Regions from separate parts of the Homo sapiens genome. Here all the other regions are reported to be linked to region 2. Evidence: microRNA targets listed by miRTarBase, many of them from high-throughput screens and not tested one by one. Region 2 holds a microRNA gene; each other region holds the end of a gene's coding sequence. Distances are between the middles of the regions.
What was found. Region 2 holds the annotated microRNA hsa-miR-665 (ACCAGGAGGCUGAGGCCCCU, at 3,275-3,294, shown strand). A microRNA usually pairs through its seed, bases 2 to 8, with sites in the 3' UTR of a target mRNA and lowers its output. Matches are read on the target gene's strand: a 7mer-m8 pairs with bases 2 to 8, a 7mer-A1 pairs with bases 2 to 7 and ends in A, and an 8mer does both.

Region 1: miRTarBase lists MTHFD1 as a target of hsa-miR-665. The part of its 3' UTR that is shown has no 7-base or 8-base seed match.
Region 3: miRTarBase lists VPS26C as a target of hsa-miR-665. The part of its 3' UTR that is shown has no 7-base or 8-base seed match.
Region 4: the mRNA of AQP6 is a reported target of hsa-miR-665. Seed matches in the 3' UTR shown: 7mer-m8 at 1,070-1,076 and 7mer-m8 at 1,255-1,261.
Region 5: miRTarBase lists NPFFR1 as a target of hsa-miR-665. Seed matches in the 3' UTR shown: 7mer-m8 at 1,871-1,877 and 8mer at 3,583-3,590.
Region 6: miRTarBase lists NPTXR as a target of hsa-miR-665. Seed matches in the 3' UTR shown: 7mer-m8 at 3,616-3,622 and 7mer-m8 at 869-875.
Region 7: the mRNA of MTMR7 is a reported target of hsa-miR-665. Seed matches in the 3' UTR shown: 7mer-m8 at 2,815-2,821.

The regions. Positions count from the first base shown.
Region 1 is chr14:64,457,359-64,461,976 of GRCh38, forward strand. MTHFD1 (methylenetetrahydrofolate dehydrogenase, cyclohydrolase and formyltetrahydrofolate synthetase 1) reads left to right here. Exons shown (of 28, transcript NM_005956.4): 27 at 856-949; 28 at 2,401-2,667. The coding sequence ends at 945. It also overlaps a transcript of ZBTB25 not described here. Among named protein-coding and RNA genes, the nearest start is that of AKAP5, 5.8 kb to the right of the region's middle.
Region 2 is chr14:100,871,801-100,876,418 of GRCh38, forward strand. It overlaps MIR665 (microRNA 665), which reads left to right and starts at 3,233; the gene lies at 3,233-3,304. MIR337 (microRNA 337) reads left to right here and starts at 2,693; the gene lies at 2,693-2,785. RefSeq lists an enhancer at 1,872-2,041.
Region 3 is chr21:37,221,631-37,226,181 of GRCh38, forward strand. It overlaps VPS26C (VPS26 endosomal protein sorting factor C), which reads right to left. Exons shown (of 8, transcript NM_006052.2): 8 at 1,792-3,996. The coding sequence ends at 3,914. DSCR9 (Down syndrome critical region 9) reads left to right here. Exons shown (of 3, transcript NR_026719.2): 3 at 1-106. Among named protein-coding and RNA genes, the nearest start is that of DSCR9, 15 kb to the left of the region's middle.
Region 4 is chr12:49,975,069-49,979,603 of GRCh38, forward strand. It overlaps AQP6 (aquaporin 6), which reads left to right. Exons shown (of 4, transcript NM_001652.4): 4 at 397-2,071. The coding sequence ends at 603. LOC105369764 (a long non-coding RNA gene) reads right to left here and starts at 437. Exons shown (of 3, transcript XR_001749143.2): 1 at 230-437.
Region 5 is chr10:70,250,570-70,255,159 of GRCh38, reverse strand. It overlaps NPFFR1 (neuropeptide FF receptor 1), which reads left to right. Exons shown (of 4, transcript NM_022146.5): 4 at 1-4,590. The coding sequence ends at 203. Among named protein-coding and RNA genes, the nearest start is that of PPA1, 19 kb to the right of the region's middle.
Region 6 is chr22:38,818,880-38,822,879 of GRCh38, forward strand. NPTXR (neuronal pentraxin receptor) reads right to left here. Exons shown (of 5, transcript NM_014293.4): 5 at 1-3,954. The coding sequence ends at 3,730. Among named protein-coding and RNA genes, the nearest start is that of NPTXR, 23 kb to the right of the region's middle.
Region 7 is chr8:17,296,320-17,300,937 of GRCh38, forward strand. It overlaps MTMR7 (myotubularin related protein 7), which reads right to left. Exons shown (of 14, transcript NM_004686.5): 14 at 475-3,905. The coding sequence ends at 3,543. VPS37A (VPS37A subunit of ESCRT-I) reads left to right here. Exons shown (of 12, transcript NM_152415.3): 12 at 1-1,705. Among named protein-coding and RNA genes, the nearest start is that of VPS37A, 52 kb to the left of the region's middle.

The DNA of each region.
Region 1 (4,618 bases), 36 Mb from region 2:
GAAACACCTCCTGCTACTGCTTGTGACCACATGGAAGATGATAGTGAAGGCTGGCATTTGGTTTGCAGAAGGACATGAGGAATCAGTTTCTTTTCTTTTCCTTTTTTTTTTTTTTGAGATGGAGTCTTGCTCTGTCACCCAGGCTGGAGTGCAGTGGCAAGATCTCGGCTCACTGCAACCTCCGCCTCCCAGGTTCAAGCGATTCTCCTGCCTCAGCCTCCCAAGTAGCTGGGATTACAGGCACACGCCACCATGCCCAGCTAATTTTTGTATTTTTAGTAGAGATGGGGTTTCACCATGTTGGTCAGGCTGGTCTCAAATTCCTGACCTCAGGTGATCCATCTGCCTTGGCCTCCCAGAGTGCTAGGATTATAGGCATGAGCCACCACGCCCGGCAGGGATCAGTTTCTGAGTTTTTTAACAGGATCAGTGACTTGATTTTTAATATGTAACAAGAGTACCCACTTTATTGACAACTATAAAATGATGTTCTATCTTTATGCCTTGGGCTTTCTTTCTGAAGGAAAAGTGAAAGTAAAGATGACTTTACGTTTATTTTAGACATGGCCTTGCTCTGTCGCCCAGGCAATCGGATGATCATGGCTCACTGTGGCCTCAACCTCCTAGCCTCAAGCAATCCTCCTGCCTTAGCATCCCAAGTAGCTGGAACTACAGGCACATGCCATCATATCCAGCTAATTTTTTATTTCCTGTAGAGATGGGGGTCTCACTATGTTGCCCAGGGTGGTTTAGAACTCCTGGCCTCAAGTGATCCTCTCCACCTCAGCCTGGGATTATAGGCGTGAGCCACTGTGCCCAGCATTAGTTTATTTGTAATGCTTTTTTACATCCTAGATGAGCACAATGCCTGGACTCCCCACCCGGCCCTGTTTTTATGATATTGATTTGGACCCTGAAACAGAACAGGTGAATGGATTATTCTAAACAGGTAAGTTGTTACTGGGTAATAATTTGGCTTTTTTCCTCATGTAGCTTATTTATGAATTATAGGGCTCAAACTGACGCTATAAAAATTCACATTCTAATGCTTTCAAAACATTTCTTTTCAGACTTCCCTGAGGGGAGAGGGGATAGTAATGAGAGTTGGCAATAACCAATGAATTGAAATATTTATATTTCAACACATTTTTGGAAGAAGCGCAGCATGGCTTGTCACAGGTTGACAGTGTAGGGGAGAAAACTGCTGTCCAATAAACTACAGAGGAAACTACAGGAGAGGTTAGACTCCCTCTGCTGAAGCCCCAGGAGGCTTGGGGTTCAGAGTTGATGACACATTGCAGGTCAGGAACAGCTGACGGTCTGTATACTCTGAATAGGTAGTTAGAAGGCAAGAATTAGCAAATGTCTTAGGAAGTATAATAGAAAAGAGAAGGAAACAGGACCAATCTGGCAGTTCTTAGGGCCTTAGGTGAAAGGGCCCTGAGTACCGACTGCAATGAGTGACATTGCATTGTTTGATATTTTTGAAATTTCAACAGGACGTGTCTCTCCTTAGGCAGACCCTTGGGGCTGAAGCAGCAAGTTGCAGTGTGCACTTATATCCCTAGACACATCCTGTTGAAACTGCAAAAATATCAAACATGAAAATCCTAACATCTTTCTCCAGAGACGAAAAAAGTGGCTTGCCTATGAAAAGAATGAGAACTAGACTTAACGCCCGTCTTACTGGCAATAAGAAGCTTTTAGACAATGGAGGAGTGTCCTGTAAGGTCACAGGGAAGATGACTTTCAACATGTGCTCACACCTAGCCGAATCTATCTGGATATTTTCAGACGTGCAAGGGTTTGCCACCCCACATCTCTTCCTAAGAAGTTATTTAGCAATGTACTTAGCAAAATGAGGAATTAACCAAGAAAAAAGGAAGACGTGAGTTTTGGGAAACTGAACCCTCATTTGGACATTAGCGAAGGGGCATTCTGATAACCATGCAAATGACCTGAAGTTACAAATCCTGTGTGGAACAGGTTGGGGGAGCACCTGAGAAAAACTAGAAAAAGCTAGAAAAGACAAGGATATCAAAGGGTCATAGTATAAAACAAAAGCTCTTGCATTATTTGAGAAAGTTAAGGTCCAAGTAGAAGCAAACTGTAGTTTGATGCTAGAACACTATTCTTTGAGAGGGTATGTGTGATACTCGAAATGCAGTCATGGCTCACGGCTTGGTCTGGTCTTGAACAGTATTCACACAGTACTATGGAAATACCATGCATCATTTTCAAGTCCATTTATGGACACGCCCTAGAAGAGCTGGTGGCAGGAAAGGATGTAAATGTTAACAGCTTTGGCAATGTGAGTGGGTAATGGTGCAGTATGGAAGGAACAGGAAACATTTCAGTGCTTGCTTAGAGAAAACATTTATTTCTTGTTTTTCCTTCCAGATCACCATCCATCTTCAAGAAGCTACTTTGAAAGTCTGGCCAGTGTCTATTCAGGCCCACTGGGAGTTAGGAAGTATAAGTAAGCCAAGAGAAGTCAGCCCCTGCCCAGAAGATCTGAAACTAATAGTAGGAGTTTCCCCAGAAGTCATTTTCAGCCTTAATTCTCATCATGTATAAATTAACATAAATCATGCATGTCTGTTTACTTTAGTGACGTTCCACAGAATAAAAGGAAACAAGTTTGCCATCTTGGTGTTGCAATATGAATTACAGCCTTAACAGACTGTGCCACAGGTCTCTGCCATCCTTTGTGAGCTCATTTGTCAGGCAGACCCTTGGGCTGAAGATGCAAGTTGCAGTGTGCCCTTTATGATACTGTTGTGTTTAGAGGGAAATGTATGCATGCTTGTGTATTTCTGAGAGGACACATAATTCAGGGGACCTCCTGAGAGGGTTGGGTTGGAAGTTGATGACTTACCTTTTAATCTTATACCTTTCTATATTGTTGAATTTTGTTTTTCTACCCTGAGGAAGTATTGCTTATACAAGTTTTTGCCTGAACTTCCTTGGAATTCCCATTTCTGTCACAGCTTTAGCACTGTCTATGTTTAGAGTGCTCAAGAAGGATGGTCATGCAGCATTAGCCTTAGGTGAGCCTCTATTCTGTTGGTGCAGCAAGTATTCATTGAGTTTCTTCTAAATGCCTGGGCTCCACCCTTCCCTACAGACTTTTTATTTTTATTTTTATTTTTTTGAGACAGTGTCTCTGTCGCCCAGGCTGGAGTGCAGTGGCGCGATCTCAGCTCACTGCAACCTCCGTCTCCTGGGTTCAAGTGATTCTCCTGCCTCAGCCTCCCAAGTAGCTGGGATTATAGGCATGAGCCACCATACCTGGCCCAGACTTTCTTTTTCCTAAAACATTAGGTTGGTAAAAACCACAATTACTTTTGCACCAACCTAATATTTTTTTTCCTCCTCTTCTGGCTGGGCGTGGAGGTGGCTCATGCCTGTAATCCCAGCACTTTGGGAGGCCGAGGTGGGCGGATCACTTGAGGTCTGGGGTTCAAGACCAGCTTGGCCAACATGGTAAAACCCTGTTTCTACCAAAAATACAAAAATTAGCTGGGTGTGGTGGCAGGCACCTATAACCCCAGGTACTTGGGAGGCTGAGGTACGAGAATTGCTTGAACCCAGGAGGCAGAGGTTGCAGTGAGCCAGGATCATGCTGCTGCACTCCAGCCTGGGAGACAGAGCTAGACTCTGTCTAAAAAAATAAATCAAATATTTTTCCTTCTCTTCTTGTTCTTTATCTTCTATCTCTGTTCTTCCTCTCCCATTTGTTTCCTTCCCTTTTTCCCCTTGTCTCCCTCCACTGGATCCTTCCAGAGGATGCTGCATCCCACTGGCGCCAGTGCTAAACACTGCTGATGTTGGCAAAGCAGTATTTTTCCCAGTGACCTTGGTTTTATTATTTTTAATTCCCTAGGTCCATGTCAATGTTGTAATACAGTCAATTTTACAGTCCACAGAAATGATAGCGCTGCCTTGAGAGGCATATGGCAAAGGGGTCACAGTGCAGAGCCCCAGCTCTATGGCAGAGAGCCTCACCCACCTCCCTGCCTCCACATCCTCACCATGGAAATAGGAGCACTGTTGGTACCTACCTCGTGAGGGCGGTTCTGGAATTACTCAAACACATCATCTAAGATGCTTTGTACAGGGCCTGGCACATTGTAAGCACTTGTCAGTTCCTGTTGCACAGCATCCTCCAGGCCCTGTTTGCAGAGTTAATTGCTTCTGGTACTTTTTTTTTCCTTTTTTTTTTTTTTTTTTGGCAGGGGGGGTAGGGGGGTTGGGACAAGAGTCGTGCTCTTTTGCCCAGGCTGCAGTGTAGTGACGTGATCTCAGCTCACTGCAACCTCTGCCTCCCGGGTTCAAGCGATTCTCCCACCTCAGCCTCCCGAGTAGCTGGGATTACAGGTTCGCACCACCATGCCTGGCTAATTTTTTGTATTTTCAGTATAGATGGGGTTTTGCCATGTTGGCCAGGCTGGTCTCAAACTCCTGGCCTCAAGTGATCCTCCCACCTCGGCCTCCCAAAGTGCTGGGATTACAGGCGTGAGCCACTGTGCCCGACCGCTTTCTGGTACATTTCTTAATGTCCTGTGAAACTTCACCTGGAATGGGATTTGCTGGGAATTCATTTTGTAGACAAGGG
Region 2 (4,618 bases):
CTTCTCCATCCTTGTGTCCCATGGAGCTCCTCCTCCTGCCATGTGTCATCCTCAGCTCCTCCTCCTTCCTGTGTGTCCCATGGAGCCCCCGCCTCTTCCCATGTGTCATCCTCAGCTTCCTATCCCTTCCGTGTGTCCCATGGAGTCCCTCCTCTTCCCACGTGTCATTTTCAGCACCTCCTTCCTCCAGGGTGTCCCATGGAGCCCCTCCTCTTCCTATGTGTCATACTCAGCACCTCCTTCCACCTCCTGTTCCATGGAGCCATTTCTCCTTCCATGTGTCATCCTCAGCTCCTCCTCCCTCCCAGGTGTCCCATGGAGCCCCTCCTCCTCCATCCTTGTGTCATGTTCGACACCTCCTCCACTCATATGTCACATGGAGCCTCCACCCATGTGACACAAATAATTTCTCATCTACTTGTATCACACTGAATGTTCTATCTTTCTTAAGGGTGTCACAGCAAGCCCCACTAATGTGTCACAGGACGCCCCTCTCCCACTCTTGTAGCACACTGAGCTCCTTCCACCACTTAGGTGTCACTCTGACCCTGTCCTCTGCGTGTGTGTCACTAGGAGCCCCACCCATTCAGCTGCACTCTAAGTTCCTCCTCTAATCATGTGTCACACATGTAGTCTCTCCCCACACTCATAAGTCATACAGAATGCCTCTCCCCATCCATGTATCACATTGAGTTTCTCTTCAACATGTGTTACTCAGAGCCCTTCCCTGACTCATGTGTCACCTGGAGCCCCTGTCCCTGTCCATGTGTTACACCGAGTTCTTTCCTGCTCATATGTCACATGAAGCTCCTCCTCTACTCACAAGGCACACAGCACCCCCTGCCCGTTTGTCGAATGGACCCCTCACCTCATGCATGTATAACACTGAGCCGCTCTCCCACCCCGTGTCGTACTGAGCTCCTCCTCCACTGATGTATTGCATGGACTCCTTCTGACACGCGGAGCCCTCCCTGCACCCTTGTGTCTCACTGGGCATCTCTTCCCAACCTTGTGTCCCGTGAGATCTTCCCCCACCCACGTGTCACATCAAGTCCTCTTTCTTGTGTTACTCCAAGTCCCTGCCCCCATATGTCACAGAGAGACTCTTCCCACCCACGTGTCACACCAAGTCGCCTTTCTTGTGTTACTCCAAGTCCCTTCCCCCCATATGTCACACAGAGACTCTCTTCCCACACACGTCACACTGAGCCCCTTTTCTGTCTCACATTCCACCTCTCCTTCACTCATGTGTCATGAGGAGCCTTTTCCCTACTAATGTGTCACCTGAGCTTCTCTCACATGTCACTTGAAGTCCTCCCCTTCCCATGCATCACCCAGAGACCTTCCCCCCACTCATGCATTGCCCTGAGCCCCTCCCTTACTTATGTGACATGGAGCCCCTCTCCACACCCATGTGTCACACCAACCCTCTCTCCACTGATGTGTCACACCAACCCCCTCTCCACCCATGCGTCACATGGAGCTCTTCCCCCACCCGTGTGTCACACCAGCCCCCTCCTCCACCCATGTGTCACACTAACCCCCCCCACCCATGTGTCACACCAGCCCCCTCCTCCACCCATGGGTCACACCAACCCCCTCCTCCACCCATGTGTCCCATGGAGCTCTTCCCCCACCCGTGTGTCACACCAGCCCCCTCCTCCACCCATGTGTTACAGGGAGCCCCTCCTCCCTCCATGTGTCTGTCAATCTGAGCCCCTTTTCCATTCATGTGTCACTCTGAGCCTCTTTCCCACCTCCATACCCTCCTGCCACCCCTACTTCTTAATCTTTAACCCCTTTCCCTAAAGGTTTCCCTCCATGGGCTCTTTCAGAGAATGTTATATTATCAGGTCATTTACTCACAGATATTTTTGCACCACCTACCACGTGCCTGGCTGCGTGTCCCTGTGCATGTGTGTTGGTGGTGTGGATGGCTGGAGAGTGTAGGACGAGGCAGGCAGTATGGTGGTTGAGAAAGATGTCAAAGAACAAAGGAAGGTGTTTTGGGGTACAACTTTATTGAGATGTAATCCACATACACACAATCCGCCCATTAAAGCTCACAGCGAAGTGTGTTTTAGTTATTCACAGATATCTGCAACTATCACCATAATCAATTTAAGATCATTTTCATCACCCCCAAAAGAACTCCAGAGCCTTCAGCTGTCACCTTCACCCTCCATGCACACCCCCCAGCCCTCAGCAACCAAAAATCTACTTTCTGTCTCTGGGAAATTCTTGAAGTGCCCCTGGACTTCATGAGTCCTCACTGGGTCCCCAGAGGTGCCTGTTGCAACCCATTTCACAGATGTAGAAGGCAAGGCTGGAGAAGTACCAGGGAGTCAAAGCAGTGGGTGGGTGGGGTCGAGTCCCCGATGTCCACTCACAGACCTGGGCCAGAATCAGGCCTGTCTCCCCCTTCACCTCCCCATCCTCCGTCCCTTGGCCTGGCTGCACAGTCACCTGGGGGCTCTGTGGGGCTAAGGGAGGCCCAGGCCCTGGCCATAGGAGGCAGGTAGGGCAAGGCTGGGCAGGGTGGACAGGTACCCCAGCGCTGCAGGTGCCCAGCAGTGGGTGGCACTGCCTAGGCTGGCTGTCCCTTGCTGTCACTGCTCTAACCACTAGCAGCAGGCGTCCCCTCTGCCATCCGAGCGCTTGCACTGCGCTTCCGGGAGGAGGGTTGCGGCCCGTAGTCAGTAGTTGGGGGGTGGGAACGGCTTCATACAGGAGTTGATGCACAGTTATCCAGCTCCTATATGATGCCTTTCTTCATCCCCTTCAACCACGCGCAGCCCCCGGACCCTCCTCTGCACCCTTGGCTGCACGGGGACGCGTCCTCAAGTCCGCTGCTGTCCTGCCAGCCTCTTCCCGGCATGCTCCTTGGGCTCTTCTCTCTCTCTTCTGCAGCTCTCTGACTTCCTGGAGGGGAGGGCCTGGGGCTGGGCCATCTCTGAGGCCCCTCCTTGGCAGGGAACTATGCCCCTGGTGGGACACCCCCTGGGCTGACTCCACAGCCAAGGGCAGATAGGCCGGAGGGGGAGTTGGGTAGCCCTGGGGCTTCTCCCACTGAGGGGCTGGGGCTGTGCTCCCACACAGAGCCCTCCAAAGGGACCCGGCCCACAGGATGGATGGACAGACGTTGGAGAGATGGTGCCCCTTTGTGCCCAGGGTGGAGGGGGTGGGGCTTTGGCGGACCAGGGCTGGCCCTTTCTGTGCCCCAAGAGGAGGGTCTCCTCGAGGGGTCTCTGCCTCTACCCAGGACTCTTTCATGACCAGGAGGCTGAGGCCCCTCACAGGCGGCTTCTTACTCTCTCCTTAAACCTGTTCTGGAGACATTTCCCCTCTCCCCAAGGATTCCCAACTCTGGGTCCCCAGAAGCTGTCAGCTGGGCTCCCTTCTTCCCCTGTGCGTACCCTGCTCAGGCTGGGTACCTGAGGGTGCCCAATGGCAACATGAGCAGGGGGCACGGCCGTGGCCCCTGGTTCTTGGACCTCTGTCTTCTGCCTCTCTGACTAACTCAGGTCCTGTGCATGGCAGAGGTGACCCGCACCAAGCCCTGTGATATTGGCATCATTAACCCCATTAACAAGCCACGACAGCCAGCCCAGGCATGAGCATCGGGGCAGCAGGGCAGCCAGTGTGGGGAGAGAGGCCTTGCAGTAGCTGAGGCCATTAGAGAGGACAAGAGGGTGCAGGAGGGAGCATCCTCACCTCTGCCCTTCCCACTTACATCCCATCTCCCCTTCCTCACCCCTCCTTCCCCATGCACCCCTTCTTCCTGTAGGAGGGAGCACCCTCACCTCTGCCCTTCCCACTCACCTCCCATCTTCCCTTTCTCACCCCTCCTCCCCAATGCACCCCCTCCCTTCCTGCAGGAGGGAGCACCCTCTCCCCTGCCCTTCCTTCCCACCTCCCGTCTCCCCTTCCTCACCCCCGCTTCCCCCATGCACCCGCTCCCTTCCTGGTCTACCCCTCAGCTTCTGTGGTGTCAGGATGGGTATGCTTGTCTTTGTTGATCTCAGACAGGTGGACAGGGGTCTGGACGAGGCTTACTGTTTGGGTCTGAGGTCAGTGCTCATGGGCTTGGGGCATGACAAGGGTCTTGTCGTCCCCGCAGCAGGGCTCTGAGCGGGTGGGTGGAGCTTGGGAGTGGGGGTGATGGCTTCTATTTGTTGTCTTTCTCTTTTTCACTTTGGGAGCAACCGGGGTCACCAGGTGGGCAGGAGGGGACCTCACGTCTCTGCCCTGGGCAGATTGTTAAGAGCTGGTCAAGCTCCTGGCACGGGGGCCTGAGTCCAAGGCCCTAACTGGACCTGGGGCCGCCTGCAGGAGGGATGAGCGAGTCCGGACCCGAGCGGTGAGTAGCCCTCAGCTGCCTGGGTGGTGTGCTGTTGAGTGTTCCAGAAACTGGCCCTGTGTGCACCAGGGCTGGAGGCTGGCACGTTGGGCATCTCATGGGGGTGGGCTGGGTCGGGAAGGGAGGTTGATGGACAAGACTCAGCAGGAGTGGAGCTCAGGGCTCCCTCCATCCCCTGACATCAGTGACCTGGGGGTGGACAGAGAAGGTGGAAGATGGGTGCATTTAGTTGTGGCCCGCCAGGTCCCGTGGGCCTGT
Region 3 (4,551 bases), not on the chromosome of region 2:
TGGGCTTTCCGGCCCTCCCTACTTTTCCTCCGAATTCACAGCACAGCGGAGCCAAAATGTATTCCTGCCAAAACGGGCATTTCCCAAAAGAAAATATTGTTTTAGATTCATTGTTCACAGCCTCTTTTTTTTTGTTGTTCATTTGAAGCAATTTTTCTTTTTTATTATTATACTTTAAGTTTTAGGGTACATGTGCACAGTGTGCAGGTTAGTTACATATGTATACATGTGCCATGCTGGTGCGCTGCACCCACTAACTCGTCATCTAGCATTAGGTATATCTCCCAATGCTATCCCTCCCCCTCCCCCCACCCCACAACAGTCCCCAGAGTGTGATGTTCCCCTTCCTGTGTCCATGTGTTCTCATTGTTCAGTTCCCACCTATGAGTGAGAATATGCGGTGTTTGGTTTTTTGTTCTTGCGATAGTTTACTGAGAATGATGATTTCCAATTTCATCCATGTCCCTACAAAGGACATGAACTCATCGTTTTTTATGGCTGCATAGTATTCCATGGTGTATATGTGCCACATTTTCTTAATCCAATCTGTCATTGTTGGACATTTGGGTTGGTTCCAAGTCTTTGCTATTGTGAATAATGCCGCAATAAACATACACGTGCGTGTGTCTTTATAGCAGCATGATTTATAGTCCTTTGGGTATATACCCAGTAATGGGATGGCTGGGTCAAATGGTATTTCTAGTTCTAGATCCCTGAGGAATCGCCACACTGTCTTCCACAATGGTTGAACTAGTGTACAGTCCTACCAACAGTGTAAAAGTGTTCTTATTTCTCCACATCCTCTCCAGCACCTGTTGTTTCCTGACTTTTGAATGATCGCCATTCTAACTGGTGTGAGATGGTATCTCATTGTGGTTTTGATTTGCATTTCTCTGATGGCCAGTGATGATGAGCATTTTTTCATGTGTTTTTTGGCTGCATAAATGTCTTCTTTTGAGAAGTGTCTGTTCATATCCTTCACCCACTTGTTGATGGGGTTGTTTTTTTCTTGTAAATTTGTTTGAGTTCATTGTAGATTCTGGATATTAGCCCTTTGTCAGATGAGTAGGTTGCGAAAATTTTCTCCCATTTTGTAGGTTGCCTGTTCACTCTGATGGTAGTTTCTTTTGCTGTGCAGAAGCTCTTTAGTTTAATTAGATCCCATTTGTCAATTTTGCCTTTGGTTGCCATTGGTTTTGGTGTTTTAGACATGAAGTCCTTGCCCATGCCTATGTCCTGAATGGTAATGCCTAGGTTATGGTTTTAGGTCTAACGTTTAAGTCTTTAATCCATCTTGAACTGATTTTTGTATAAGGTGCAAGGAAGGGATCCAGTTTCAGCTTTCTACATATGGTTGGCCAGTTTTCCCAGCACCATTTATTAAATAGGGAATCCTTTCCCCATTGCTTGTTTTTCTCAGGTTTGTCAAAGATCAGATAGTTGTAGATATGCGGCGTTATTATTTCTGAGGCACAGCCTCTTTCTTTCGTCTCCCTTTCCTTTCCTCATCTCTTGCTCTAATTGGAGAATTTGACAACTCTGAACCTCTGACTGTGGATAACCCCAACTCCAGCAAGCCTGGGCAAGAGTGGGACAGTTGCAGCCCAAGGTAGCCAAACATCTGAGTTTTGCCTAGTAACAGATCATGGAGAGGTCAGACCAAGAAGTGGAAGGAAGTGGCCGGCCTGAGGCCTTTGTTTGGGCCACTCAGGGTTGAATGAAATGATAAAGGTAGCCACGTTGTCTGGATGCGCTTCAGGTAATAATTATTCTCTAAGGAAAGCAGTCATATTTATATCCATAAAATCAGTTTATTAAATTACATAGCAATATACATCCCAAACCTTTTCTCAAAATTGTCATTAGCTTTTTAAATTCGTTAAATATTTTCATCTCATTAAAAATGGTTTCTTCCTTTAAAATTTCCCAGAAAGTGTGGCCTCTGTTTTCTGCTACTCAGTTTAAACACATCATCAAGGATAGATAATTAATGTCAGGTGAGCATAAAAGGAGATTATAAACCAGAAATGTGTTTTCTGGGAACCAAGTTTCAAGTGACTCAGATAAGTTTTATTAATTTCATGGGTGAAGCCCCTGGATAAAGCAGTGCCTAAATCAGGCTTGTTTACCCTTGGCATTATGTCACCAAACACTGTTTCAGGATACTGGAAGTACATACAGCTTGGGAGGTCTTTGGCCTGAGCCTGTTTTGGCCAAGCCCATCCAGAATGAAAAGTACAAAAGAAGGCTAGTGTGTGTGCAAAGCAGCATGGCTTATTTTGAGGTCCTATTAGTTGTGGGCCAACAAAACAGTGGCAGGATTTGAAGGAAGAAATGTATTGCAATAGTCCATATCCTTCGAACCACAAAGGGAGACTGAGGAAATGCTGGCTTTAGGCCAAAAAACCCTGGCTCAAAACAGCTTCCTCCAGTGGCTCAGAGGCAGACCAAATTCATCAAGTCAAGGACCTTTTCCTGCTACCACCTTGCGGAGAGGGGCCTTCACCAGCCCACCCTGCACATGGGTTTCTGCTGTTCAGAACCTACCCAGTAACAACAGGAGCAAACATACATGTTTTCCCCTCATGTAACTTTGCATTTAAATATATTCTGGGAAACTGCTGGGCACAGTGGCTCACACCTGTAATCTCAGCACTTTGGGAGGCCAAGACAGGAGGATCACTTGAGTCTAGGAGTTCAAGACCAGCCTGGGCAACATAGGGAGACCCTGTCTACAAAAAATTTGAAAATTAGCTGAGTGTGGTGGCACTCACCTGTAGTCTCAGCTACTCAGGAGGCTGAGGGGAGGGATCGCTTGAGCCAGGGAGGTTGAGGCTGCCGTGAGCTGTGATCCTGCCAGTGCACTCAGCCTGCGTGACACAGTTTGGAAAACTGTCTCTCTCTATGTATGTATCTGTTCAGGGAAATGGCAGCGTGAGATTTTATGGCAGTTCTTGAGACTTCAGAAACACTTCGGCACCAGCCAAATCCCCCCAAGAGAGCAAGGAACACTTTTCCAGTTGCTTAAAAAATTTAAAGTTATAATGAAAAATGTTGTAAAAAGAACTACAGAGGCTGGGTGTGGTGGCTCACACCTGTAATCCCAGCACTTTGGGAGGCCAAGGCGGGTGGGTCACGAGGTCAGGAGTTCAAGACCAGCCTGGCCAAGATGGTGAAGCCCCGTCTCTACTAAAAATACAAACATTAGCCGGGCACGGTGGCAGTCACCTGTAATCCCAACTACTCGGGAGGCTGAGGCAGGAGAGTCGCTTGAACCTGGGAGGTGGAGGTTGCAGTGAGCTGAGATCACTCCAGCCTGGGTGACAGACTGAGACTCCGTCTCAGAAACAAAACCAAAAAACTACAGAATAGAGTAGGGGTGGAGGGAAGTCATGCATTTCCAGTGGCTAGCACTTTGCGCTCTGCCTTGGCGAGTATCTGCAAACTTCCTGACCATCAAGTGCGCTTGCAGCCATCCTGGATGTCAACTGGCCACAGACCCTTTGCTATGGGGAGTCCCTGGCTACATCCATTAGCAAGTCAGAGGTTTCCTTTTGTCCCCATGATGCCACTCTCCAGCAAGCTCAAACTGCTGTCACAATTGTTTTACTGTACCTAAAAAGGAACAGATAAGGCAAGAGCCACAGTCAATGTTTTCTGTGAAATGGTCTTGGCAAATAGCATTAAGAAATCTTGTTGAATTTCAAAGAAAAGGTCTGATTAGAGGTGCCTGTTGGAAGCAGAAGCCTCAAGAAATGAGGAAGGAAAGTTAATTTGAGGGTCTGTTTCATTTCTGATACAGAATAATCACAAAAACAAGTATATGCCGCTGGCTGTAGCTCCCCTTAGGATTTGGATAACCAGCTGGATTTCCAGATGGCCACTCCCGTTCTCTATGCTTCCCTCCTCCGGGCTATATCCTGCAGAGCTTCAGCGGGAAGTTCTCCGTGATGAGGTGGTCAGGGTGAAGCAGCACCACGATGTTAACCTCAAATTCTGAGAAGAGAAGAGAGGGTGGGTTTGTGCTCACTGTTACCAAGCAGCGAAACCACACGCCGCCACCACTGCAGTCGCAGGAAGCTCTAACGGCGAAGGAGCACCCGGTGCGGGTGGGTTTCATTGCTGTCCCCTCAGCGCCACCCTGACCTTTCAGCCAAACTTTCAGTGGAGATGACTATGCTGATGTCTGACTACCTCTGTCAACTTTCTCTAAGTGAATTTTTGTCCTCTCATCTTGGAACATGAGTGATCAGGCTTCACCAACTACACTTTCCCTGTCCCTTTGCTTTCCTAAAAAGGATATTCTAGAACCCTTTCAATTCATTTGTATTCCTTTGCCTTATTTTTACATTTCCTACGGTTCTTAATGAAATAGCAGACTGTGAACCAGCGCATAGCTGTCTGGGCCCATGTCCCCAATCCCCAGGTGAGAAACAGTCTTCAGAAGCAACAATTTCATTGTTGCTCCATTGGATACTATTCATCCATCACCTTTCAGCAAACAGGATTCCTTCTCCACCGACTCTTCAGCTGATATGGGTGAGCCTTGTT
Region 4 (4,535 bases), not on the chromosome of region 2:
CAGCTGGACCAATTTTCAAACTTGGATAAAGAAAAAGACAAACAGAAATAGACACACACACCAGCAGAGACAGAAACAGCAATAGCCAGGACTCCTGGCTAAAACGGGGGAAGTGAGAGGAAAGAGGCGGGGGCGGGTGAGGAGACTGGCCCCAGGCCCCAGCCACGGCTGCAGAGCCTGGGCTCAGCCCCAGGGAGGGCAGGGAGAGCAAGGGGCAAGGTCCCCTTACCTTGTGGGCTTGGGAAACACGACTCGTGGTTCTCAAATTTAGCACCTTACAGACAGTTGAGGGAGACCTGGGAGATCAAGTCGGCACTGGGGAAGCAGGCAGCGGTCCCAGAGCCACCCTGTGGTCCTGATAGCTCCTGGGTGGGGTGACGACATCCTTCTCCTCAGGTCTTCTGGGTGGGGCCCCTGATGGGAGCCCTCCTGGCCTCACTGATCTACAACTTCGTCCTGTTCCCCGACACCAAGACCCTGGCGCAGCGGCTGGCTATCCTCACAGGCACCGTAGAGGTGGGGACAGGGGCAGGGGCAGGGGCGGAGCCCCTGAAGAAGGAATCCCAGCCGGGTTCGGGAGCCGTGGAGATGGAGAGTGTGTGAAACAGCCTACGCCTGGCCGCGCCCTTGGGCTTCCTGCCTTGCAGGACCTGCCTGGAGGTTCTCCCTGGGGGTGGCGGGAGGGGGAGGCTTGACCTTTTGTCCTGACCAGGTGGGCTGGAGGGGACAAGCCCTATCCCTGGCATTACGTTTCTAGGTAGAATCTGGGAGTGAATTTGTCCCATTCCCTCTCTGTAGGGCTTCCCCACCTCTCGGTGGGACAGAGCAGAGGAAGGCAGGGGATTTAGGATCGCCCTCCCATCCTCTCACCCACTGGACCCCGTAGGAGTCCTGACCCCAGATGCCCAAGTCTTGGGGGAGAAAGGAATGGGAGCCCAGACAGCCACTCTGCTTAGACATGGGAGCTATAGGGACCTCAGGGAGCCCCAGCTTCTTACCCACCCAGGAAACCCTTGGTCCAGAGAGGACAGGCTTTCTGGAGGAATCAGGCCCTGGGACAGCCTCTGAGCTCCTGGGGGTGTTTCTCTGACCTTGGGTGTGGTTTTGGGGGCTATATTTCCTCCTTCAGACTGGGGGCTTCCTGAGGACAGAGACTGCTCTACCAATAGATCTTTGTTTGTTTTGAGACAGAATCTTGATCTGTTACCCAGGCTGGAGTGCAGTGGCATGATCTCGGCTCACTGCAACCTCTACCTCCTGGGTTCAAGGGATTCTCCTGCCTCAGCCTCCCAAGTAGCTGGGATTACAGGCGCCTGCCACCACGCCCAGCTAATTTTTTGTATTTTTAGTAGAGATGGGGTTTCATCATATTGGTCAGGGTGGTCTCAAACTCCTGACCTGAGGCGATCTGCCCACCTCGGCCTCCCAAAGTGCTGGGATTACAGGCGTGAGCCACCGTGCCCGGCCTCTCCCAATAGGTCTTTATTCCTCAATCCTCCAAATGCTCTGGAGAGGCCCCCACCCTTGAGAAGAACTGACACAGAGAAGAACATTTTCTCAGGCTCGTAGAGAGGTGGGATAGAGGAAGGGAGGTTTGAGCCAGACAGGCCTTTCCCAGGGAAGCCTCCTCCCAGGTGCTTGCCCCAGCTCCCACCCCACAGCCCACTCTCAGGCAGGAACAATCCTCAGAGGGGAAGTGCCCATCTAGCCATTGACTCATGACCTGGGTCAAAGAAGCCGTCTCCAGGCTCTCTGTCAGCATTACAGGATCCCCAGAAAGCTGTTGAATAAGCCCTAAGGGTGGTAGGAACCCAGGAGGGACCCAGGAAACTAAGATTTGAGATTCAGTGCCTCTGAAAGACTACCAAAATCTAAGTTGGTTTAATAGTTAAAAGCTGCTGTAGATTTATTCTGCCCACAACTTGGGGGTCCTTTCTGGATCTCGGCTTCTCCAGCTGTAAAATGGACACACAATCCTCCTCCAGGGACTGCTGTGAAATCAAGAAATCGGAAAATACTTTCAGAAGTTAAAATGCTAGAAAAACAACCCCAATAAATGATGATTATTGTTGCTGTTACTGTAATTATTGGGTATGAAGACAATTGCTGTTGGTAATGAGAGGGAGGAGGGGAAAAGAGAGAGAGAAAGATGATTGAGAGGGAGGGAAGAGAGACTGGGTTTTCTCTCACATCATTGGATCTACTTAACCAGGGACCCTGTGTGCTCTTCTCCTGGGTCTGCTGACCTTGAGGCTTTGTGGGTGTGAGGGGCTGTGGGAGGGCCCTGGAATGAAGAGGCGAACCAATAAAATCAGTTCTTCTCATCTCTATGACGCCCATCACCATGGTACCCTAAGATGCAGCAGCCAAATTCATATAAAAGATGGGTCCTGGCGGCCAGGCACGGTGGCTCACGCCTGTAATCCCAGCACTTTGGGAGGCTGAGGCGGGCAGATCACGAGGTCAGGAGATCGAGACCATCCTGGCCAACATGGTGAAACCCTGTCCCTACTAAAATATAAAAAATTAGCCGGGCGTGGTGGCGCGTGATTGTAGTCCCAGCTACTTGGGAGGCTGAGGCAGGGGAATCACTTGAACCCGGAAGGTAGAGGTTTCAGTGAGCCAAGATCACGCCACTGCACTCCAGCCTGGTGACAGAGCAAGACTCTGTCTCAAAAAAAAAAACAAAAAAAACAAAACAAAAGATGGGTCCTGGCCTGGTGCAGTGGCTCCCACCTGTAATCCTAACACTTTGGGAGGCCAAAGTGGGAGGATCGCTTGAGGCCAGGAGTTCGAGACCAGCCTGGACAACATGGCAAAACCCTGCCTCTACAAAAAATTAAAAACTTAGCCAGGCATGACGGCTCAAACCTGTAATCACCAACATGTTGGGTGGCCCAAGCAGGAGGATTGCTTGAGGCCAGGAGTTTGAGACCATCCTGGGCAGCATAGTGAAACTTCATCTCTATTATTTAAAATGAAAAATTAATTAAATTAAAATACAAACAAAAGATAGATCCTTTTTAGTGATGTCTCCTGAGGGACTGGGGATGGGGGAAAGGCTGCCCAAGTCTTCCAAGGGCAGTGTGGCAGGCCCAGCCTGTGACCAGTGCAGTAGCTGAATCCCTGGTGCTCATAGCCCCAGTAGCTGTGCTCAGCGTTCTGTAATATCAGCGCAGATACTACTCACATCTCTCCAAGCTGGGCCCCACTCATCCATCTTCACAATCTCTCAGAGTCCAAGGCTGCCTGTGTCCTTTTATGAGCAGGGAGAGCTGGGTGTCTGTATGTATGCATGTATGAGAGCGTATGTGTAAACAGAGGACATGATTGACTTGCTCAAGGTCACCTGGTTCAGGAGCACGAACACTTAAGGTCTCCCCAGCTCCCAGTTGAGAATTTTCCAAAATAGAGCTCCTGGGGGGTTCATACAAGCTGCAGCCCCAGGAAGGAAGGAAACAGGAACTAGAGGATTGAAGGGGATGGGGGCGTGGAGCTCCTATGGTAGGCTCTTAAGCTCCTTGACAAATGATCACTGCTTTTTGTCCCCAGAGCCAAGCACACACTGGGTGCTCAATATAAGTTTGATGAATGAATAAGGCTGGGCAGTTGGGGAGGATGGGAGGCAGTAATAGATCAAGAGGAGAAAATTTCAGGAGTTACAGCTCCAAATAAGCCAGTATGACAGCAGCTGAGAAGCCTATGCTTCCAGGCAGGGGCTGGGGAGAGGGTGCATCGCCAGATATTTGCTGTTCCACCCACAATTTCAGAGCAGGCTTCACAATGTCTGTCCCAGGAACATACAGGCCAAAATATGAGGGGTTGCCTGAAGAGAAAGCTGAGGGGCTATTTTCACTAACAGTTCTTCAAAGCAGTTCTGTCAGGACAGAGCAGGAGGAAATAAGTTTCCTGAGAAGTGGGGAATTAGGTTAGCCTCTGAAGAGCATCCAAGGTTAGACGTGGAAATAAGTAACCAAAGGTTCGCTTCCCCTCCTCTGGAGCCCTTTAATAGGACAGCAGGCCATCTGTTTGGATGAGGGAAGGGCTGGCCTTTGGAGAGCTGAATCTCAGTAGCTCCAGCTGGGGGAAGCAGGCTTCATTGGCATAGCCCCTGGGCCTGGGTGGGGGCAGGGGACATGGGGAGGACAGAGACCCAACCAGGCCAGCCCTTGGTGTGCATTCCCTTCCTCCTGTTTGTCAGGGAAGTTTTTAATTAATGGTGTATAATCTGATCTGACCCTTCTCCCTGCTGAGCACTGCCTTCAATCAGTGGAGCCATCTGCAATTGCAATTCATAATTCTCCCCAAAGGGAGGGGGACTCGGGCCGGGTGCCTTGGTGATTAATACAATTAGCCTTTTATGTTGATGATTGTCTTAGCAGGAGCAGATGATGCTGTGCTGGGAGCCTGGGCGGTCGCGTCCCGATTGGCTGGCAGGAAGCCCCTCTCCGCTTCCCACCCCCACTTTTCATCTTCGATCTACTACCTCCAGGTATAAAGAGGACAGGCCTCATCTGGGGTCATACTGTGCAAGG
Region 5 (4,590 bases), not on the chromosome of region 2:
CCGGCGGGCTTCTGCACAGGCGGGTCTTCGTGGTGGTGCGGCCCAGCGACTCCGGGCTGCCCTCTGAGTCGGGCCCTAGCAGTGGGGCCCCCAGGCCCGGCCGCCTCCCGCTGCGGAATGGGCGGGTGGCTCACCACGGCTTGCCCAGGGAAGGGCCTGGCTGCTCCCACCTGCCCCTCACCATTCCAGCCTGGGATATCTGAGGGGGTCCAGGGAGGGCGGGACGCTGCCTCAGGGCCCCGATTGGACACGAGATACATGCAGGCGATAGCGGCCTGGTGTGGTTAGGTGAGGATGCGTGGTCCCTCCCTCTCCAGAGCCAGGCAGTGGTGGGCAGCTGCTGGTGATGTCTTCTCTGCTGCCTTCACCCTCAGTAGAGGCAAATGCGGGGGACGGGAAGGAACCAACTTGCCCTGTGTGGTGGGCTTGACAAACATCATCTCACTGAATTGTCACAACGCTTTGGAGATAGGTTGTCTTCTCTTCCTTCTACAGATGCAAAAACTGAGGCCTGGAGAGATGTGACTCACCCAAGTTTCTCAGGTGGAAATGGCATGTGAAGCTATCTGACTCCAATACCTGTGTGGTTTTTATCATCTCCAGCTGGCTCCAAGAGGGCCCGGTAAGGTAGAACACTGTGAACTGAGTAAGTCCTAATTAGGCAGCTAGGAAGAAGCGAAAAGCAAAGCCGGCCTGTCCCTTGATGCTTTGTGTCCATGTGAGGGAGTCCCTCATGTTCCGTTACTGAAGCCACTCCCCTTGATCCTTTTCTAGAAGAACACGGTGTGCCCCCGCTGCCGGCTCTAATGTGTTGGTTTGTCTTGTTTGTTCCAAGAAGTTCCAAGAAGCCATTGTCCTCAGAGGACGGCAGCTTCAGAACGAGCCTTGGGGAGGCTGCCTCAGTTGCAGGGCACTCTAGGTCTTGCCCTCTGGGTCTGAGCTTAGAGAACAGAGGAGGGACTCCCAGACCAAGGCAAGAACTTACAATGCCACAGACATTGTAATGCTGCAGGGCCACAGGAGGTGTCCTTTTACGTACTCATAGACAACGAGGAAGGGGAAGCACGGTATGCATTTTCCACATTGGGAAACACATCTGCTCACTGGGGCTGCAGGTACAAAGCCTTGCCCAAGGTCTCTCTCCTCCCTGCTTCCTGGGAGGGAGAAGTTGGTCAACTGAAGCTGCAGCCGGAGTGCCATTTGGAGACTCCTGAAGGACACACACTAAACTCTTCCCCAGCACAAATGACTTGTGTACTCTAAGGAGGTACCAGGAGAGCCCTGTTTACTCTGGCTTTCCCCCAACACCCCTGCATCAACTTGAAGAAATGTGGCTTCTTTCCAGGAGACGGGAGCACATGGGATTGCCTTGGAGGGTCCTTTCACAGGCCCCTTCATCTTGCACTTAAATGGACATTTCCCCCCACCTCTGTAGAAAACACGGTGTTGCTAGAAATTTAGTAAACAAAAAAGAAACGTTTCCAGGGGTCGGGGCTCTGAGGCTCTGTTCCCTTAACCGACACACAGTGACTGTTTACTGTTTGCTCCACTCTAAGTTCCAGGTTTAGGGGCAGAAGAAAATTCCTAAGCAGTTGTACAATACATTCTCCAAGCATGTCCCCAGACACCGTCTCATTTAATCCATAGTAATGAGGTTGAAGGAGATTGAATGTTATTGTCATTTCACAAAGTGACTGAAGCTCAAAGGGGCCAAGTTTCCAGGGCCACAGAGGGGCAGGATTTAGATTAAAATTTGTCTTCTGATTGTTCTTCCCACCCCACATGCTGCCTTTCAAGGAAGGTGGGGATGACGGGAGAGCTGGTAATTTCCCCAAAGGCTTTTTTGCCTAACAGTGAACCAGAATGCCCACTCCTGGTGCCCAAGCTCTTGGTCTGGGAAAGAAATCTATTGTGTTTACTCTCGTAATGTCCAGCCTGAGTTGTTCTTGCCCTGGTGCTGAGCAGGCTGCCAAGAGCCATCATGACCTTGTCCTGGTTCTGGGGGTGATGGATGAGGGTCTGAGAGAGAGTATGCCCTCCTGCCCCTCAGTGGTATTAGCTGGTGCCATGCATTTCTGGTACTGTATCAGTGTCATGTGTCATATGGGCCAGAGAGTTCCCAGCTGGTTCTGGGCTATTTGTTGTGAAGAAGTCTGACTCCAGGCTCTAAAAGTAAGCCAGAGAAAGGGCCGTCTCAAACCCAAAATGCCTATCCCTATGGCTGGGTGGGAATTGTCTGAAGACACCACCTGGTGTCTCCTCTGGGGTGTGTTTCTCCTTTAGCATAGCCTCCCCAAGTACAAGATCAGCATTTGAGGCTGGGGGCGGGTAGGGATACCAAAGTACTCACTCAAGCCAACCTTTCCATCACAGCCCCTTTGTCTTCCCCCAAAAGATGTCATGCTTTGAAAGGTTATAACTGCCCAAAAAACTCCTTCAGCTCTCGCTGAAGGTTACAATTAACATATTTTGCTGTTATTTTTGTTTCTTCTAAAAAATCAATCAGAGGCTATACCTGCCCATTCAGATCTGAGTGATAACAGGCATGACAATGCTTTAATGAAGCAGTGAGACATTGTGGGTATGTGGGGAGTTCGTTTCTTTGTGGATGTGGTAAAATATAAATAATATAGAATTTACCATTTTGGCCATTTTTAAGTGTACAGGACTGGAATTAAATATATTCACATTGTTGTGTAACCATTACCACTATCTATTTTCAGAATTTTTTATTATCCCAAACTGCAACTCTGTATCTATAAACAATATCACCGCATCCCCTCTCCTCCTAGCCCCTGGTAACTACTATTCTACTTTCTGTCTGTGAATTTGGCCACTCTAGGTACTTCTATACAAGAGGAATCATACAATACTATCCTTTTTGACTGGCTTCTTTCACTTAGCACAATGTCTTCAAGGTTCATCCATGTTGTGGCATGTGTCAGAATTTCTTTCATTTTAAAAGCTGAATAATATCCCATTGTCTAGATAGTCCTCATTTTGTTCATTCATCCATCAGTGGACACTTAGGTTGTTTCTATCTTTTGGCTACTGTGAATAATGTATGGAGTTTTTAGATGCTAGAAGTAGTTCCTGACAATAGTGCCTGTGTGAATCCTGAGGACAGAGACCCCAGGTTGGGAACCAGGGTCTCTCCCAACTTACCCTTTATGGCTGACAAAACAGAGGCTTCCAGGACAGCTGTGATGTGTCTCACTTCCCTGTGCCCACCCCAGCTGCTCTGGGCTTCTGCTGGGCTTTACTTCCTGACTAGAGTGGCTAGAAAATTGTATGTTTCCTCTACAAGATGTTTTTATGAAGCTATTTTATAATTATAGATTTATTATCCTCACTGGATTCCTATGTTCTGACACCTGGACCCTGACGGGGCCTTGTGCAGCCTAGGCGCCCACGGGCAAGTGGTGTGGACCATTCCTGACACGCCATCCTCCACCTCCAGGTTGGCTGGGTTTCCTAAGGTGACTGCCCTTTCATAAGCGGCAAGTTCGGAGATGAACGGCATGCGTGATGGGGGAAAAGGGCCAGAGGCCTGTTGACACTGAGCATCCCCACCCAGAGGGCCTCCTGGAGGGACTCTGTGTCCTGTCCTGCCATGTGCGGCATGAGTGGTCACCCTCATTGTGGCTCTCCACTGATGAATGGCCTCTTGACTTTACCAAGACCAGGCAGCACCCAACAGACCAATGTGAGCTGGAGGCGGATGCCGGGCCTGCACCCCACAAACCACAGTCTGCCCAGCCCTGTGCTGAGGAGTCTCTCTTGGGGCCTGGAGGACTCATGAGCTGATCTGCATTGGAATGGAGGGCGAAGTTGGCAAAGGAAGATGAGAGCCCCCCTATCATTAGTCTACTGTGTATTCATCCAAAAAGCAAGGCGAGAGCCAAGCCCAGAGCTGGATGGACAAAGGATTGCTATTAAGCTCTGTACCTTTTTGCACCCGTTTCCTCAGCTCACCCCTCAGAAGTGTCACTGATGAAAGATAGATGAGAAGGAGGCGGTCTAAATGGGCTTCATTACAATGAACAATGTTGAATGAACAATACATTCCTTGTTGAATAACCCAATTATTTATGATCATGGCATTTTATTGTTGTTTTTCTCTCTCTCTACAAAAGCTCTACATAATCATTGTGGAAATTTTACAAGATTTCAATAAGCAAAGACAAGAAAATGAAAAGCACCCAAAATCCTACCGCAAGAGACAAGTATAGCGTCCTTTTCTGTGCATATATCTCTCAATATATTTAACATTCTTGGAACAGCTTTATTGAGGCAGAACTTGAATATGAAAAAATTCACCCGTCTTAAGTGTACTGCTTGACGAGTTTTAACAGTTGTATATAGTTATGTCCCTACCACACTGAAGATATTTTCATCATCCTAAAATGTTTCCTTGTGCTAATTTATAGTCAGTCCTTTCCCACGCTCCTGATTCCAGAAAACGATGATCTGATTTCAGAATGTCATGTAGATGGAATCAGACAGTTTGCAGCCGAGTCTGGTTTCTTTCACTTAAAATGATGTTTGCAAGATTCATTCATGCTGTAGCATGTATCAGTAGTTTTTCCT
Region 6 (4,000 bases), not on the chromosome of region 2:
AGTGCTGGGGAGAGGCTGCTGCGTCCTAGAGAGGGCTGAATGCAGTCAGAAGGCTGGGCTCAAGTCTCCCGTGTCCAGCTGGGTGGCCTTGAGGGTCGCTCCCCTCCCCGGGCTTCAGCTTCCTCATCTGTAAAATGAGGGCTTTGGCCTCTTCTCAGAGCCCTTCCTGTCCAAATCTGTGGTCCCAGGTGATGCAAAGTGGTGGCAAGGGGATTGGTCCCCTTGGGATGTTGGTGGGGGCACCACATGCCACAAGATGGGAAGATCTGGCAGATAACAGCTGGGAAGCAACTGGTGCAGGGCTTGGCCCCAAGCAAGAGTTGGAGAAGCAGCAATTTCCCTCCCCTTCCCTGCCCAGGACTCGGGAGATGCTCAGCTTCCTTTTCTTTTTTGGCTCTCCTGTGAACTCTAGCTGAGCTAAAGAAGGGCTGAAGCTCTGGCCCATGGTGGGAGGGACACATTCCCTGAAGCAGCTGAGCCCCCTGGCACGGCTTCACCAAGGGGACCCTGGCCCTGGGGCTGGCCCACCCCCTGCCTCTGTTCCTTCACTTCAAGCCCTGTGGGCTGGGAAAGGGGTCGGAACACGTCTGGAGCAATGGTGCCCAGATGGCACTCTACACAGGTGAGTGGGAACTCAGCCCCTGGACGTAACCCCCTTTGGTTTGAAATCTGGGCTCCATCACTTGCTAGCTGATTGACACCAGGCAGATGACATCACCTCTCTGTGCCCCAGTTTCCTCACCTGTCTAACGGAGCCAAGAACGTCCTAACTTAGAACTGTGTTGTGAGATCAACAGGACGGTGCCTGTGCCACACTCAGTGCAGTGCCAGATGGCAGGACAAACACGGGCTCCATCGTGGTTATCAGCCAGGAGCAGCTCAGGATGTGACTGGGCCATGTCTGACTCCTCTTTCCCTGTCTGCTTGGATGTGCTCAGGGGCAGCAGAAGATAGGAAAAGCGGGACCCAAACAGTGGTGCTGGGGAAATTTGTTCCTGTTCCCTTTGGAAGGCTGAGTGGGTGATGCAGCACAGGAACAAGGCTTGGACGTCAGAGGTCTCATCTTCACTGTGACAAAGCATAAAGGACTTGGGGTTGAGCGTGTGTGTGGGCTCAAGTGACCATGCAAGTGCTGTCACCTCCTTCCTAAGACCCCATCCTTCTCCCAAGTCCTCCACAAGAGCTACCTTCTTCAAAACAATAACAGAAACACATCAAGCTTGGCGTCACTGAAATTGAAGTTCTGAATTCTGCCGTCACCCCAGCAACAGTGCCAGTATGATGAGACACTTGACCCAGCACTTGGGTTGATGTCTTTGGCTGTTACCGTGGCAACCTAGGTCTCAGCAGGTCTGGCTGAAGCCCGCCATTGCCTTTTCTTCCAGTGGGATTGTACTGGAGGGGCTGGGCAATCTATTTATGTTCTCGAAATGGAAAGCAGGATCTGGGCGCGGGAGGCAATGCAACTTGGAGTAGCTTCCATGGCACTGAGCCCCCCGGCCTGCAGCTCTTGCATCATGTCTCAGGCTAAGTGGCCTCAGGGAGTGGAGATAGGGAACAAAAAGGCAGGCAAAAGGTACAGTGCCCACTTGAGCCAGGGAGCATGCAGCTGCTCAGACACCTGGTAGGTGACTAGCAGGGGAGGGACACCTCAGCTCTCCATTCTGCCGAAGCGCCCAGGGATCATAACCTCCTCCCCGCACTTCCTGGGGTGGGGATGCCAAGATGTTTGGGTGTTGCATAAAGGAAGATGTTCAGGTGTCATGTTGGAAAGCATCTGACCTCGCGGATGTCTACCTGCTTAGGTGTAGACTGAACTCAAAGGTCTTCAGGGGCAGGCAACATGGAGGGGGAAGAACACTGAAGAGGGAGTCAGATGCCCTGAGCTCTAGTCCTGGCTCTGCCCCATGCTCTGTGATCCTGTGCAGGTCACGTGTCCTCCCTGAACTCTTCCCCATTTCTCACAAGCAAGATGCAGCTGTGGTGCCAGATGGGGTGGCTTTTCTCATCTTTAAGATTATTATTATTTTTTTGAGATGGAGTCTTGCTCTGTTGCCCAGGCTGGAGTGCAATGGCGTGATCTCGGCTCACTGCAACCTCCACCTCCTCAGTTCAAGAGATTCTTCTGCCTCGGCCTCCCGAGTAGCTGGGACTACAGGCATGCACCACCTAACCAGCTAAGTTTTGTATTTTTAGTGAAGATGGGGTTTCACCACGTTGGCCAGGCTGACTTCGAACTCCTGACCTCAAGTGATCTGCCTGTCTCAGCCTCCCAAAGTGCTGGGATTACAGGCGTGAGCCACCGTGCCCGGCCTCTCAGCTCTTAAGATTCTGACACTCTCTTGGGGAAGCTGGTGATGACTCAAGGGGACCAGGAAGCCATCAGCCCTTTGAGACACTCTCAGACAGGCAAGGGTGCCAGGCTGGGTTGATCCAAAGGGAGCTGGTTTTTTACAATCCATGCATGAGGTTAGTCTGCCTTGAACCTTGCCCTGGACTCTGAGTCTCTGCTGACCCTAACCCATGACTGGCTGCATCCCATCCACTGCCGAGTCCTGGGATCTACCCCTGCGAAGCCCAGGGTCACCAGAGCTTTCCCCACATATCCACCTGGAATCACAGAGAAGCTCACACCCAATCTGGAGAGCAAATGACCAAAGCGAGGGCCTCAGCTCACGAATGAGGAAGGCCAGGCCCAGAGAGGGCAGGGACTTACAGAAGGCCACACAGCACATTAGCAGGGCTGGCTAGGAACCAAGGTCTTCTCCCTCTCACCCAGTGCTCTGCTCACTGCTTCATGCTTCTCCCCACCCTCTGAGCTTCTTCCTTGCTGCCCCAGGACCATGCACAGGGTAGGTAATGTGGCTCTGCCAGAGGTGGGGTCTCCTGGGCCATGAGGCCTCTACCTTAGGGCTGCTCCCAGCCCAGGCTGAAGCGGTCCAAGTCCTGTCCTTGGCATGGAGGGAGAGCGATGACTATACCAGTGGCCATCACTATGGGTGAGCACAAGGGGTGACTGCAGCCCTTTGGCCTCCTGGGGTCTTTGTCCCCTTCCCTCCAGGCTGGAGCTGGGAAAGGAATGTCCTGGAGACTGAGGTGGGGCTGGGCCAGGCATGGAACCAACATTCAAACCGCTACACACAAAGAGAGGAGGAAAGAGGAGGAAGAGGGAGGCATGGGTGGGGGGGGGGGGAGGCTCCATCGAGATCCCACTGCCCTTGACTGGCAGCTGGTGGAAAGAGGGAGGAGGGTAAGTCTAACCTCTGATGTCCTCGTCATCCCCTTCTACAGCCTGTTGTGGCCCTGAAGGGGAAGCCACTGGGCCTGTTGCATGGGGGACAAGGGGGCGGGCGGCCACCCCCACCACTGAGATAGTGGGGTCCCCCTCATACACAATCCTACCCTACTGGGGGTGCTGTCAAAATTAGTGAAATCAGATACAGTTGATGGGCAGGGAGGGTGGGGTAAGAGACAACTCCAGTGCAGTGCCAGGTGGGCAGGCTCCCACTGTTCACTTGAGACGCTCCTCCCCACTCAGGTGGGGACAGGGGACACACTCGCAGGGCAGGGCATTCTGGAGGTGTGGGTACAGGTGAGGGGAAATGGGAGGCACAGCCAGGAGTGGGGCAGGAGGGAAGGCCAGTGCGTGGGCAGGCTGAGGAGGGAATATGACCCCCCTCAAGTCCCCAAAGTGGCAGGCAAGGGAGGGGCCCTGGATGAGGTGGCCCCTCATGCCTTGGCCCTCCCCTTGCAGACATCGAAGGCAGCCTTTGTTGCACCCCCAAAGGCCTCCACCAACTTGTCTTCCCAGGGAAGGACGTTGCCCAGCAGTGGCGCAGTGCAGTTGGCAATGCCCAGGACCTGGGCTGGTGTCAGGGCGTGGTCCCACAGGTTAAACTGGGCAATGTCACCGACAAAGGCCTGGGTGGCATCAAACCGGCCACCCAGGGTATCCTGGGCCAAGACAGCAGCAGAGAAAGGAGAGGCATGGAGTGAGGGA
Region 7 (4,618 bases), not on the chromosome of region 2:
TGACACTGTGCTAAGGACATGCTGTTAAAGCTTCAAAGTGACCAGATGAGGAAGGAATAATTAATTATTACTCCTGATTTGTAGATAACTGAGGTAAGAGTGTTTCAAATTTATGATAGTCTTTTGGGTATTCAGAAACCTTTCCTTATACTGCACTGGCCACCAGAGCTTAATTTTCCCAGCAGTTACAGCAATGGGAGATAGAACAGTCTCAATCTTTTGCCAACCATCAGGTTCCTAGAAACCAGGTAGGTGTATCCCATAACAAGGGAGGAGCATACCACAGCCCCTCATTTGATTAATTCATTTGATCTATCTATGTTATTAAGTACCTACTAGGAATAAGGCATTGTGGAAATACTATACAAAGATAAACATTGTTTAGATGCTTATCTACTTTCCTTTTCACCAGAAAAACAGAAAAAAAAGAAACATTTTCTTACAGAGTAAAAATGTTCTACATAATCACATGAGTAGTTCATCTCAGTGTTTTTTATTCTTTAAAGTTGAACTATCCCAGTTTCATTCTATACCATTCATTGGATAACCTTGTTACAACCCAGTCATGAAACAGAGCAGTGTGATCAGTTATCTGCATTTAACAAATAGACAAATCAGTTTACATAAAGGTTATGTATGTCACCCACGATGAAAAGAATCTGCATTTGAATATGCCCGTATGAATGTGGGTTCTGTTTTTGCAACAGAGATTAAGTGACCATTTTTTCTAATTTTATGGCTATATATTTTCTTCATAAAAATTGGTCACATCGGAGAAGCAGTGCCACAGGAAAAATGAAATGCATGTGAAAGTTTGTATTCTGATTTTACAAGATGAGATAGAAATCAGAATTAAAGAGGAATACTTAGGAGTTACTAGGCTAATCAGTGTACGAATTTGTCATAGGTAGAGATTTAAAGGTTAATATCTTAAAATAGAAGAAAATTCTAAATCAATCAATCAGTGAGATATAAACTAAACAGACCCACTTCAAAGTTGAAAGAAATTTCTAGGCATAAATTGAGACTAGGAAATTTATATCAGAATAGAGGGTGCTTGACACATATATATGCTTAAATTGAAGGACAGCTCAGATTCATTTTTAGGAGAAGAAAGTAAACTAATGTGCTCTTAAAGAATAAAAATTTATTCTATGGTTTCTGTCTCTGATCATCACCTTCCATTCTATAAAAAGCTCAGTTACTGATTTGCTGGGTCATGGTCAAAATTCTTACCTATTTATTTCATATCAACTTTAAAAAATAAATTACTTGCATTCTATATATTACTAATTGGGAAGTAATATGCCTCAAATCAGTTTTATACTGGATTATTCCCTATGCTTTAAACCACTGCTCTCAATAAAACACTTCCTGATTAATGTTTGATTATTAGATATTTTAGTCTTGTTGGGGATATTTTAGTCTTGTTGGGTTAGCCATGCTCTGAAGAATCTGTGAAAGTACAGTAAAGTTTTAATAAGCAATAAATGTAACCTTTTATATAAATCTCAGTGCTAGGTTAACTTCTAATAAGCAGACGAACATGTTACATAAATTATAATGTCTGTCTTGTAAAAAAGTTGAGGGGACTAAAAGTTTATGACTCTGATATGGAAGTTGTCATATTAAAAAACTACATTTTAAAACATCAAATATTTATACTATTTGCTTTTCAAATAAAAGCATAGTGCTGTTTGGCATAGATACTTTGTCATTTTTTAAAAAATGTTTATTGTTTTTATAGACATACACTGTCAAACGGAAGAAATTAAAGCCACATCCTCAATATTAGGCAACAGAGTTTCTAAGAGTGGACAGCTCCAAGAAGGTTGTGAAGTGAGTTATGTTATGTTATAAAAATGTGAAAGCCATTACCACTATATCCTAAGTTTTATTTTAGCAAGGTATTCCCTATTACATATAGTATATTGCAGAAAATGAATAAACATTCCTTGTACTTAATTTGGGAACTGCTCAGCAGAGAATGCCCAAATTTTATATTCTGAAAGAATTAATTACACTTGCTTTATTTTTTACATTAACAGTACTTTTAAATCACAGTTCTCTAATATATTCTATATTTTTAAATATGATGAACACAATTAAATGTTTTCATTTATATATATTGCAACACTCCCTCCAAATCTTTCATACTAGAGAGATCAGCAATGTTGCTTTCTTGCCCTCGTCCTCATTTCAGCGAAATGTAATAATTCTCCCATTAAAAAAAATCAGATATTCAAAATATTGATGTAAATTGTAAAGTTTAAATTAATCCTTTCACATATTCAAAATATTGATCTAAATTGTAAAGTTTAATCCTTTTACATTCTAGAATGTACTAATATATTAAAACCATACAGTGTGAATACCATTTATTTATGTCCAAACATGGCCACTTTTCCCCACTAAGTTTAATTTAGGTCACCTAGTGAAGTCTTTTTTAACTCATAAGATAGGGGAGGGACTCTCCCTTAAATGTGCAGTGTAACAAAACAAAAATTCTTTTCAGAACTTTCAGCAGTCAGTGGTCATGAGATGTTACTAAGGTTAATTAAACCATATTAGCCAGTTACATAATTTCTAAAATGATAGATTACAAAACCTATTCCCTTCATTAAACAGACATGACAACCCAATTCTCTGGTTCTTGAAACTGGATTTTCACTCACAGATGTTTTATCTACTAACTTTATAATGTGATACTTTGAGATCAGGCTGGTGGCTGGCCCACACTGTCGGTAGTGTAGTCTCTAGAACAGTAATAAAAGGTTATTACAAGAAAGCTGATACTTAAATTCATATGTAAGACCAGGAGAATGAATGTTGCTTCTACCTCGTTAGCTATTAAATCAGTGTTAGAGAAAAAGTGAGATACAAGGTTTAGCATTTTTAAATAATGAGGAGAAACAGACTATAGATCTCAGAGAAAAGCAACAAAATTATTCTCACAATTCAAAATATATGCTCCAAGGAAAAGTTAAAGTGATGATTATGCCTGAAAGATAAGCAATTAAAAGCTCCTTAGGAATGCATCTATTAACTAAAAAGGGTGCATCTCACCAATGTGCCTGTTTTTAGAAATATGTATAAGAGGGTCGGAAAGGAGGATAATGTCAGATGCTTTAGAAAACACAAAATATGCATCTAGAAGTGAACTAAAAGAATCATGATGATCACAGATGTGAGGGAAAGGAGTGGAGGCTTTTTGAGAGATGCATGCTATGACAAGGAAGATAGATACTGATCACTTCAGGTAATGACAGAAGTAATTGCTCTGCAGTGAATATAATTTTCATAGTCTAGGGTGAGCTTCAAAATGGTGAATAATTTTCCTTATATTTGATAAATGAAATGACTACGTCCTCTTCAGTATCTAAGAAATCAAGAACTGGGCACTTTTTTCCCTTTTCATAGCTGCATTAAAGTAGTTCTCAATGACATGCACCATTTCCTGTTTTTACAATAAACCACCTTGTTCCCTTGTTTTTGGAAGTGTTGCTTATGTGTCCTTTACTTTGGAACTCCAAAGGGAAACTTCAGGCAGTGAGAAACACGGCTTCATCAGAATCCCGGTCCTTGCCACTATCTTCACTCGGTGCATGCTCACCACCACTTGGAGACCGACAGCTCAAATCCTCCACCCCGGACTCTTGGTCACTGTTGGCTGACAGATCTGGATCTGAACTTTTCAGATTGTCTTGGGTTAGAATCAGAGCAGAATCTTCATCGCCTTGTGAAGGGCTCCGGGATGGAAATGATTTCATATTCCCACTGTAATCCTGGGGAGTGTTGGCTATGCTGTTGTCTGAGGTAGAAAACCCTGAGTGCTTGCTGGGCTCACTTTGCTTACTCTTCACCTTAGTGCAATTTAACTGGACCTTTTGAATTTTTTCCAGCCTCTAAGAAAGAAATAACAATTTCAGGGGAAAAATCATAAATAACTTATCTTTTTCTATATATGCATGTCTTTAGCATTTGTTACCTCCCACGTGGGTATAATGTTAAGAACATGTGACTCAGAGGGATGTGAGTTCAAACCTGGACTTCACGACCTTGGACAAAATCTGTGAGGCCTGCTTTATCTCTAATGTAAGGATAATACCTGCCTTGACATAGGTTTTCTATAATAATAAACAATATAGCACAGTTGAAGCACCCAGTGAACCCTAGTCTCCCTCTTTTCTATACCTACATGGTTTCAAATGATGAGTCTCATCCCATGAACTCAAAAAACATTTTTTAGAAATCATGAATGAAGTGTTTATCATCTAACTTTTATACTGAGATACAATTCACTTACCGTGAAACTCACCCTTTTAAAGTATACAATTCAGTGGTTTTTAGTTATATTCACAAGGTTGTGCAACGATCACTACTAATTATAAAACACTGTCATCACCTCCCCTGCCGAAAGAAAACCCCATACTCATTAGCAGTCATTTCCCATTCCTATCTCCCCACAGCCCCTGGCTACTACTGATCAACTTCTATCTCTATGGATTTGCCTAGTCTAGATGTTTTATATAAATTGAATGGAATCATACAACATGTGGATTTTTGTATCTGGCTTCCTTCACTTAGCTTATGTTCTCAGAATTCATTCATGGTACAG